Regions from separate parts of the Homo sapiens genome. Here region 2 is linked to region 1. Evidence: fine-mapped expression QTL. A gene starts in region 1. The other region holds a variant in brackets. All regions are shown on one strand. Distances are between the middles of the regions. Region 1 holds the start of SNHG29 (small nucleolar RNA host gene 29). Region 2 holds the start of LOC124903936 (a long non-coding RNA gene).

Region 1 (5,367 bases):
AGAAGGATTGCTGGCCTCCAGGATCGCTGAGGCTGTCCCCACGGCATGACGTGTTTTCATGACTGTGGCCCCGTTTCCCTGGTGCCTGCTTCCTGGGGACACACTCAAGGGTTAAGCTACAGTGCTTGCCATCTGTTTACAGGAACTCTCGAGAACCCTGTCCTGGCTTCCCCTCCCAAGGAGGATGAGGATGGTGCCTCTGAGGAAAACTATGTGCCCGTCCAGCTCCTCCAGTCCAACTGATGGCCCAGATGCAGCAGGAGGCCAGAGGACAGAGCAGAGGATCTTTCCAACCACATCTGCTGGCTCTGGGGTCCCAGTGAATTCTGGTGGCAAATATATATTTTCACTAACTAACTCTTCTGGAAACATTATTTGGGCAGAGTTGCTGGGACCCTTAGAGCTGGCAATGTCTGCATGTCTCTGTGTGCACAGGTCTGTGTATGGGACTAGGTTGCTCCTGCCCTTGCCTGGGCACAGAGACCCTCAGTTGCTGTGTCCCCACCCTCACCCCCACATCCCCAAGTCTGGGGACTGTCCTCTTCCTGGGTACAGGCAGCTGGCTGAGGTGCTGTGCCCATTGTTGTGGCAGATATATGGTGATGGACATGGGCAAACAGCCACCTCTCCTCTCTCTCCACCACGACACCCTTTGCTTTCCACACCCACCCTGCTTTTGGGCAGGTACCTGGGAAAACCCATTAAAGCCACCTCTCTTGCTTTCTCTTCCTACCGAGCTTCTTGCTCAATTCCCACCCCTCCCAAGCCATTCTCTGCAGGGCAGCCAGAGGGCCTTCCTAAGACATAAGACAAACATGTCCTCTTTGTGCTCTGAAGGCCTGAGAGGCTCCCCAGTACCCACAGAATGCCCTAGCTGACATCCCGAGACCCCCACGGTTTTGCCCAAGCAGTTCCAGACACCTCCTCCCCTCCACCTCTGTTGCCCCTCCCTCCTTAGCACTCTCCCCAAATTCATGCAGGCCGAGAGACCTCGTGCTTGATCCCTTGACCTGGCTCTTGCTGGAAGCCCCCCTCCTCCATTAAAACCCTACACTTGGGGGTGGGGGGAGGGATAGCATTAGGAGATATACCTAATGTAAATGATGAGTTAATGGGTGCAGCATACCAACATGGCACATGTATACATATGTAACAAACCTGCACGTTGTGCACATGTACCCTAGAACTTAAAGTATAATAATAAAATAAAACCCTACACTTGCCGGGCGCCTGTAATCCCAGCACTCTGGGAGGCCCAGGCGGGCGGATCACCTGAGTTCAGGAGTTCGAAACCAGCCTGACCAACATGGAGAAACCCCGTCTCTACTAAAAATACAAAATTAGCCGGGCGTGGTGGCGCATGCCTGTAATCCCAGCTACTCGGGAGGCTGAGGCAGAAGAATCGCTTGAACCCGGGAGGCAGAGGTTGCGGTGAGCGGAGATCGCGCCATTGCAGTCCAGCCTGGGCAACAGGAGCGAAATTCCGTCTCAAAAAAACACAAAAACGAGCAACAACAACAACAACAACAAAAACCCTACACTTATTTCTGAGGCCAGCTCAAAAGGTCTTATGATTGTCTTCCCAGTTTTTTGCAGTCAAAATGAATTTCTTTCCCTTGGTATAACGTGTGTGTGCAAAACGTGGTTGCATGGATTCTTTTTCAAGGAGAGAGCTGAGCATGTTCATAGGCTGAAAGGAAAGCCACAGTAGAGAGAGTTTTCCATGGAAGGTGAGGCAGGGGCATAGGTGGAGGAGGCCCCAAGGAATGAGGAGAGGAAAGGAGGTGGGCAGAGCTTTACCCCAGAGGCGAGCAGAGGATGGACGTGGATCTAGATAAGACGTCAGCTCGTTCCCTAAAGGTCGTGCTAAAGGAGTAATGAGGGTGACCAGTGCGCAGGGGTTTGAGAAGCCCCGTGGATGTGGTGAAATAGCTGTGGGGAGAGTATTTGGCAACGCTCAATAGATTCAGGAGGAGCTACTAGGATGAATGGCTGCCTTGTGCCACAGCTCTACAGGCTTTCACGTGTGTCATCTCACGTGATCTTCTGGGGCGCTGGTGTCTCCGTTTACTAGAGGACCAATCGGAAGCTTAAAGAGAATGAGTAATTGGCCCAAGACCACCCAGCTAAGGAGTGGCGGAGGTGGGGCCCAAACGCGCGATCCAGCCCTCGCGCAGGCGCCCTGGAACTCCCCGCGCGTGTTGTGACCCAGAATTCCCGGGGCTGTGGAAGAGACCATAGACTCAACAGGAGGGGGAGTCCTGGGTAGCGCGCCGGTCTAAATCGTTACTTGGCGGAAAGTTCCCATGAGTCTTTGCCAGCGTCCCCCTCCTTTTGTGAGGATTGGGATATTCCGACTCCTTAAGGGCCTGGCGCACATAAGGTGTGACCTTTTCATTCCCGTTGTTATGGAGGTAGGCTCTCTAGGAATCTGGGAGTAGTAGCTGGGGGGCAAGAGCAAATAAAGAGCTCGAGCTTCTGTGGTCTCTGGGGAGATGTTCCCGGGAAGCCTGTCTAGAGGGCGGAGGGCAGCTGTTGAGATGGCGTGGCTCCCCGGCTCCTGCGCCCGCGTGGCTTTCGCGGCGGGCGCTGCGGCCCGGTATTGGACAGCCTGGCAGGGCAGCGCGGGGCCGAATCCGGCTGCCGTGGCTGAGGCTCATGGATCACTCTTTTGTGGTAGGGCCACATCTGCCAGAGCCTGGAGTCTGCGAAGGCCGGGACCCGGTTCCCCGGCCCACAGTGGGGGTGTGCAAACCCGAGAGAACTGGGTAAGTTGGGGTCGGCTTGCAGTTTGGGGTACCCCGAGGGCGGTGTACGTCGGTAAGATTGTAACAGTATTACTGGAAGACTTATTCGACTGTCCTGATGATACTTGTAATAGGAAGTGCCGTCAGAAGCGATAACTGACGACGTCTAATGTCTATCTGACCGCAGTCGCTGAAACCTCTACAACTTAGTTGACCGTAACTGCCAGAGCCCTGCCCTGAATTCCTGTCCTTACTCCCTCTTTAAGATTGCGTACCCACTGCAGAGTGCTGAAGACGGGGTAGCCACGAGGTGAGAGGCTCTCTGGTGTAGGGTTTAACATGGAACGTAGTTTTGTCACTTGAATGCACGGAAATTGGCGTTTTGACAGTTTTCTACGTTTAGGTGTTTTATACACTTTAGGGTAACGTTATCATGTCATTGCATAGGGTGGAACTTAAATAGAAACTGGAGATGGCTGCTTCAGCCACAGTCCTAACCTAGAACTGCATTTAAAGCAAACTGATAATGCAGAAACAAACTCCTTCGTTAAGAAATGTCTCCAGTAGCAGGGTTAGCTTAAGTTTCAGGTAGGGTCTAGATCTGCGGTTGGAACAGTACTGGAGGGTTGTGAGGTGCTTGACTGCTCTGATGAAATCACTAATAGGAAGTGCCGTCAGAAGCGATAACTGACGAAGACTACTCCTGTCTGATTGCAGTCAAGTCTTCACCACTTGCTGGTTCCCAGGAGTAAACTTGTTTGAACGGTGACCTAATTGCTATATTCACCTAGGTTGCAAATTCGTGAAGAATCAGCATCATGTTTGGCAGCTGAGTATTGGAGCCAGGAGCCTGCCATGAGGTAAGCCTTGCTCTATGGGGAGGCTAGTGGCTGACCACGCCTAGCTGTCAGGTCGAATATTGGCAATTGGATTTGGTTAACCTAATACCTTGTAACAGTGTAGCCTATCCCAGAGATACTGATTTTAGTTTCCGGTGGCAGTGGAGCCAGGGTGGATTACCTAGAAAGAGGGGCTACTCTATTTACCTCTTGGCTGTTTAGTCTCGGGCAAATTACCTGTCTGCTGAGATGTAGTTTTCCTCAGATGTGAAAAGGAAAAGTAATCTTAGCTTTGTGAAGTTTAAATTGATATGACTGAAATGGAGATTACAACTCCCCTGAGGCTGGGCACAGTGGCCTGTAATCCCAGCACTTTGGGAGGCTAAGGTGGGTGGATCACCTGAGGTCAGGAGTTCAAGACCAGCCTGGCTGGCCGACATGGTGAAACCCCATCTCTACCAAAAATACAAAAATTAGCCGGGTGTGGTGGCGTGTACTTGTAATCCCAGCTACTTTGGGGGCTGAGCCAGGAGAATCGCTTGAACCCGGGAGGCGGAGGTTGTAGTGAGTCGAAATCGTGCCACTGCACTCCAGCCTGGGCAACAGCGAGACTCCATCTCAAAAAAAAAAAAAAAATTACAACCTACTGAGAAGCTAATTAAGATTTGTAGTCCTCAATAATTTACAAAAACTTAGAAAAATTACCTCTAATTAGGTCTTAAGGGGCTTTTGTTAGGATGGACTTAAATTTGTAAAGTCATTAATTGACTGTCATCAGAAATGCCTGTCCTGCTCTGCATCTGCAGTCTCTAAGGTGTATGCGCCTTCTCCATTCCCCCAGGTTTTGAGAACAGAGTGCTGTTTTAGAGCTGGCAGCAGCATCTCAGCCCAAGAGAAGGTAAGCCTTGAGCTGGCCAATGATCCCTTCAACCCCATAGTGGAATGAATAAACAGCTGATCTTGTTAAAACTCGCTTCAAAAAAAAAAGATATCAAATGATGAAATCACCCAAAATAGCTGGAATTACCGGCAGATTGTGTAGTGGTGAACCTATGGTTTTCTGAAGATATCTCTTACCCTGTGATTGACTGTCAGTTGGTGCAGAAAGTGAGATTGAAATGTAGTTTCTTTGCAGGTTATATTCCCAGAGGATGTCAGTCCCAAGGACCAGTAGCTGCCATCAGTTTGGATTCTGAAAACTAACTGGCATCAACACTGGGTGTAGAAACATGCTTGCCTTATGTATCAGAGGACATGCTCAGCAGATCCAAGAGATATATTTGGCAACTTTTTCTAGAAAAGGCACATTGGGTATCATTCATTACATTCTTGAGTTTTTTTGGGTTTTTTTTTTTTTTTTTGAGACAGTCTTGCTGTATTGCCCAGGCTGGAGTGTGGTGGCACAATCACAGCTCATTGCATCCTCAATCACCCAGGCCTAAGCAATCCTCCCACCTTGTAGCTGGGACTACAGCTCACAGCACACCTGGCTAAAATTTTTTTTTTGTTGAGACGGATTCTCTATGTTGCCCAGGCTGGTCTCAGGCTCCTGGGCTCAGATGGTCCTCCTGCCTCAGCTTCCAAAGGCACAGGCCAAGTTGTAGCTTTGTCCCTTGCCATCATGCCCAACAAGAGGTTCTATACCTTTTAATGAATTGACTTTCATAAATTGGTTATGTTGGTGGGCAAAGTTCTTTAAGCTGGAAATTGTAAATTCCTCCTGAAATGTTTTTTCATGCAGTTACCATGAACTAATACTACAATAAAGGATGGTCTTGGGT
Region 2 (5,367 bases), 45 kb after region 1:
AACCTGCCCCACTCCTGCCCCTTTCTATTGGGTAGGGCCTGAACCTGGGGCTCCAGGAGGCTGTGACTGCATAGACAGAAACTAAGGGCAGTGGGGTGGGATGGGGGGCATCACAGGTTGCCGACTTCCCAGGCTGCAAGTGCTGGCTCCCTGTGGTGCTGGGTGTCCTTCAGTGGACGAGGGTGTCCTGCAAGCCTCCTTGGCACCTGTATCTGTGGGTGGAGGCTCCATGGGGACAGCGGCTATGGGGTGGGAATGTGCCTGGAGGGGGCACTGCAGGGGGTTCCGAGATAGCTGGGGGCTCTTCCCACAGGTCCCTGGCATGCTCTGGGAGAGACCTGGGCTGAGGGCCGTGGGAAGGCCAAGTGGGCAGGAGAGGGACAGGCTTGAGGACCAGGGCCGCTGGGAGGCACCAGCAGAGCAGGTCAGGCAAGCCCACCTAGGAAGTGGGGGAGACGGGGCTTCCCACAGGTCCTGGGCCTAGCGCCTGTGTCCACTCATGAGCCCCACTGAGGAAAGGGGTTTGCCCAGCAGCCAGTGTGTGCCGTGCCCTGCACCTGTGTAGGCCCCCATGGCCAGAGACAAGGGCAGAGCTGGAATCTGACCATGGCCAGCCCTGCAGTCACTTGCCAGTCCTCTATGGCATCAGCGACTGCCCTGAGCCCTTCTAGAAATTAGCATCTTGGCCGGCCCTGCTTTCCCTACTTGTCCCAACTGGTGCCAGCTCCACTTAGGTGCCCAGGGACGTATGCTGAGTGAAAGAACCAAGTACTAGTGCACAGTCAGGTGCCAGGCAGGGTTCTTGCCCTCTGAAGGCAAAGGTCCTGAAGCTCGGCTGGGGCTGGCAGGTCTGGGTCTCTGTGGACAGGACAGAGGCTGGAGTGGGGACAGGCTCCATCCAGACGAGCATGGAGAGCAGCCCCTCAGAGAAGGAAGCCAGAGTGGGAAGTAGAGGGAGGGGAGAGAGACCAGATGTGCAAGGGGCCAGAGCAGCCCCACAGTAGGCAGAAAGGTGGCAAGGGAGCCAGGCACTGAGTCATGTGGACAGCAGGTCCCAGCAGAGCCTGCCCCAGCCTCATTACCCTCCCCAGTGCTCTGAGATGAATGGTTTGTGGCACACAGGGCAGCTCGGGCCTCTGTGAGGGCTGGGCTTTGCTCATGTGTGAAAGTCTGCAGGTTCCCTGGTTCTGGCCTCTGCCCCTGGCACCATGTGATGTGGCCTTTCACCCTCCGTCAGCTAGGACTGCGGTCAGCACAGACAGGTTGGCCTCGGCAGTATGGGGGTCGGCCCCAGTACCTGGTGGGGAGGTATCTGTCCCCTCTCTGTCCTGGGACCGCTGCATCCCAGCTCTTGCACCAGCTGAGGCCAAGGTGGGTGACCTTAGGGTTCGAATGTGAATCTGGCTCAGGGCCTGGAAGAAATAACTGACCACACATGGGAATGAATGGGTCTTTCCAAAACCACAGGCACCTGGTGGAATCTCAGCAGTGGTAGGGAAACTCAGGGGTCATTTCGCCCACCACTCCTTCATTCTGGAACTGGGGAAACTGAGGCCAAAGAAGGGAAAGGGCTGGGCAAGTTAGGGTTTCCACTGGGGCCAGAACTGAGGGCTCCTGGCTCCCAGTGAAGCCAGCCTCCCTTCTGTGCCACGCTGCGCACCTGTACTGGTGGTGGCTTCTGGGGTCCTTGCCATCCCTCCCGGAGGAAGGGAAACAGCTGCTGCCATGGTTTTCTCCTGGTGGGTTGCCTGTTGCATCCCCAGTTCCTAGACTGGTGCCTGGAGGAACAGGAACTCGATTGTTGAATAAATGATTTAATGCATACTACTTTTTTAATTTTCTGCTCATCTAATTTTCTCATTTTTCTATAATTGTATATTGCTTTTATAATATTTTAAAAACCACCATTTTTACTTTAAGCAACATTGTGTCAACTTCACAAAACCACCTAATGAGGCCGGGTACAGTGGCTCACGCTTGTAATCCCAGCACTTTGGGAGGCTGAGGTGGGCGGATCATGAAGTCAAGAGATCGAGACCATCCTGGCCAACATAGTGAAACCCCGTCTCTACTAAAAATACAAAAATTAGCCAGGCATGGTGGTGTGCGCATA[T/C]AATCCCAGCTACTCAGGAGGCTGAGGCAGGAGAATTGCTTGAACCTGGGAGGTGGAGGTTGTAGTAAGCCAAGATGGCGCCATTGCACTCCAGCCTGGCGACAGAGCGAGACTCCGTCTCAAAAACAAACAAACAAACAAACAAACAAAAAACAAAAAAAAATCCACCCCCTAAGCAGCAAAATAAACATGAGAAAAGGCTTTATGGACTAGAAAGCCATGTGCAGATTGGGGAGGTGTCCCTAATGCCTGCTCTCCTGCCCAAGGCACGGCTGACACTCAGACAATCAAATCGAGCCGGGCACCCTTCTTGACCGCCACCAACCACTTCCAGTTCTCATGGCCCCACTCCCCCACCTTCCCGCTGGCAAAGGATGGGAGGCTGAGAGGGGAGCTGACCAAGATCCGGCAGAGGAACAAGAGTCTGCTTCTCACCCAGGGAAGGGAAAAACACACAGCAGGGAAGACAAAATGAAAGAAACAGAGACACAAAGAAAAGCTGCAGGGAGTGGGAGGCAGAGAGGCAGAAAGACACGCGGACACTGAGGGCCGAGCAGGAGCGAGGGGCAGCTCTGAAGGTGGCCCCAACACACTCACATACGAGGGCACTCCCCACTCTCAGCTGTGCTCCTGTGTCTCTCCTGGTTAAGATAAAGTTAGAAACAACAAAATGCCACATCTCTTTGAGCAGCAGCCGTCGGCAGAGCTCCATATGGCTGCAGCAGCCAGGAGTCTGAGCTAATAAAAGTTAAAAAAAAAAAAAAAAAGCTGGGAAATGCTCCTGGAGAGCCACGTGGGCACTGCTCAGGGCCGGGTGGGGGTAGGGAGGAGAGCAGGCACCATAGGAGGGGGTCCCCGCCCCTGCTTGGCGCGCCAAGGTCTCTGTTCTCATTCAGAACACCCAGCCCTTCTAGTAATGGTGAGTCCAAGACGCAGCAACCAAATGTGCTGTTTTAGATGCCTGGGCCCTCTCCTACCTCCATTCCAGTTTCTCTTAATGGGAGAGGATATGACAGTCAGTGCTGAAAGTTTGCGTCCCCTCCTCTCCATTCTCAAATGTATATGTTGAAATCCTAACCCCCAAGGTGATGGTATCGGGAGGTGGGGCCTACGGGAGGTGATTCAGTCATAAGGCTAAAGCCCTCATGAATGGGATTGGTGCCCATATAAAAGAGACCCCAGAGAGACCCTTCATTCCTTCCACCATGCCAGAATGCAGCGAGAGGGTACCATCACCAGAAAGCAGCCTCACCACACAGTGAATCTGCCAGCACCTTCATCTTGGACTTTCCAGACTCCAGACTGTGAGAAATAAGTATCTGCTGTTTATAAGCCACCCAGTTTATGGTATTTTGTTATAGCAGCCGGAAAGGACTAAGACAGTCGGCAAGAACAGCCAGGAGGAGCCAGGACAAGCAGTGTGTGTGTGTGTGTGTGTGTGTGTGTGTGTGTGTGTTCGTGTGTGTGTGTGTGTGTGTGTATGCGTGGGCGCGCATGCGTGGTTTTCTTGCAGGGCACCGGCAGCACTGCTCTTGGTGGGGAAGGGGAGACAGATGGCTGGCTGAGGATCCCCACACTGCGGGGAGAATCTCCAATGCTGACCCCACCCCCTCTGCATCCTGATGGAGGAGTTGGAGAAGACCCTGGTCACTGGATAACCCTTCTTCAAGGAGTCTCTCCCCTGCAGACAGGGAGTGGGGATGCAGGGAGGAATCATGGCTTCCACCCCACAGGTTACAGCGGGGTGGGGGAATACCCAGGCCCACGGTCACAGTAGAAACACTTCAGAAGTCTGAGCCAAACCCCGCTGTCTCCTGAGAGAGAACGCCAGGGACAGAGGCTGGAGGAAGTGTGTGCCTGATGGGAAGTTTCAATCCATTCTGTAAGAATTTCCTGAAAACAGACTGTGTGCCAGTTTTTATGGCCTCTGCCCCAGAAAAGCACGCATGGCAATGAAATGACACTGGGGGGAGGGGAGGGTGCACCCACCCTGACGGTCCATGGATGGAGGCCAGGGTACTTTAGGACCTCTGAAGACAGCAAAGCAGTTTCTGGTAATCTCTGAGGAGGTGGCATTTGTTCCAGAAAAAAGGACCCCCCAACCCCATCCCACAGCCTCACCAGACCCTAAAGTCAGAATAACCGGCCCAGCTACAGCCCCTGCGGTCGTGCTTAGCCACTACAGAGGCTGCTATTTCCCCAGCCAGTGTCCCTGGCAGCCTTGGAAACCAATGAAGCAGGCTCTGACACAGGAATCCCTCTGCATCTTTATCACTGGAAAAGCCTCGATCCAGCCCAGGCAGAGAGCGGCGGATTTTAAAAAGGAAGGTTTCTCTTTGTGAAGGAAATGAACATGATTCAGCACAAGAGCCGATCAGGAATGTGGAGGCCAGACTCTCCCATCAGGCTCCGCTCCCCTCCCGCCACCTCGGCAGAGGCCCCAGACTGCACCTGCCGGATGGGATCCCGTAGTGCCACAGAGCCTGGGCACCATGCCACTCCTCTCTCCAAGAACACCACCGCCTGGCAGGCTGCCAGGAACAGCCAAGCCCTGTGGACATCACTCCCAGAAATCCAACCACACGGAAAGCAAACGTGCTGTGTCTCATGACAGTACTAACAAGCCTGGTAAATCAGCCCACAGTTGCACAGCCGTAGCTGGGGAATCCAAGTGCTTTCTGAGGACACACTGACGACAGCAGCAGACACACACGCGTACGCACATCTTCACGGCACACAGACTCACTAAGGTATGCCACGAGCCTACAGGTTTTCAATACCATACAGTGGATAACAGTGGTGGTGGTGGGTCTCCGCCCTCAGGAAGCACTTGACCTTATCTGACAAACAAAAGGAACATCAGGGAAAAACTCTGCATGGATTGAATGCCTCCCAGTGTGGCAGGAACTAAGAGCCACATGGATCTCTGAGCTTCGGCTGACATGCCCAGGAAGGTGGCCCTGGAAAGGTAAGGTGCATTCAGTGGAAACATGAAAAGCATTCCAGGTGGAGGAAGAAGAGCAGGCCCAGCGTAGGGCCCCCCTGCTCGGTGTCTGGTAGCCTTCCAACCTGCTTGCCTAAAGAAGTGTTCTTAGGTGGAGGTGGAAGGAAAAAGGTGACCTTCTGAGGTCATTATGCTCATCTTTCTGCTTCTAGGTAGTAACGACCTGTCCAGTCTCCACATCTCCAGGGAGTCTCCAGGTGTCTGTCCATTGCTCAGCTCCACTTGAGGGGTGAGTTAAACTCTTAGGTCC

Evidence for each region. PIP is the estimated chance that this variant, and not a neighbour inherited with it, causes the effect.
Region 2: its variant is fine-mapped to the expression of SNHG29 in whole blood (TOPMed, PIP above 0.99).

Annotation. Positions count from the first base shown.
Region 1 is chr17:16,436,647-16,442,013 of GRCh38, forward strand. It overlaps SNHG29 (small nucleolar RNA host gene 29), which reads left to right and starts at 2,341. Exons shown (of 4, transcript NR_045025.1): 1 at 2,341-2,414; 2 at 3,539-3,607; 3 at 4,428-4,484. TRPV2 (transient receptor potential cation channel subfamily V member 2) reads left to right here. Exons shown (of 15, transcript NM_016113.5): 15 at 143-357. The coding sequence ends at 243. It overlaps LRRC75A (leucine rich repeat containing 75A), which reads right to left. Exons shown (of 4, transcript NM_001113567.3): 4 at 4,931-5,367. It overlaps SNORD49B (small nucleolar RNA, C/D box 49B), which reads left to right and starts at 2,863; the gene lies at 2,863-2,910. It also overlaps SNORD49A and SNORD65. RefSeq lists enhancers at 843-1,744, 1,745-2,644, 1,760-1,949, 2,010-2,339, 2,645-3,546 and 1 more.
Region 2 is chr17:16,482,101-16,487,467 of GRCh38, forward strand. The region is part of intron 1 of LRRC75A (leucine rich repeat containing 75A); the gene reads right to left. LOC124903936 (a long non-coding RNA gene) reads left to right here and starts at 3,554. Exons shown (of 3, transcript XR_007065641.1): 1 at 3,554-5,081; 2 at 5,270-5,346. RefSeq lists enhancers at 955-1,771, 2,028-2,954, 3,880-4,805, 4,806-5,367. The variant T/C (reference allele first, on the strand shown) is at 2,114.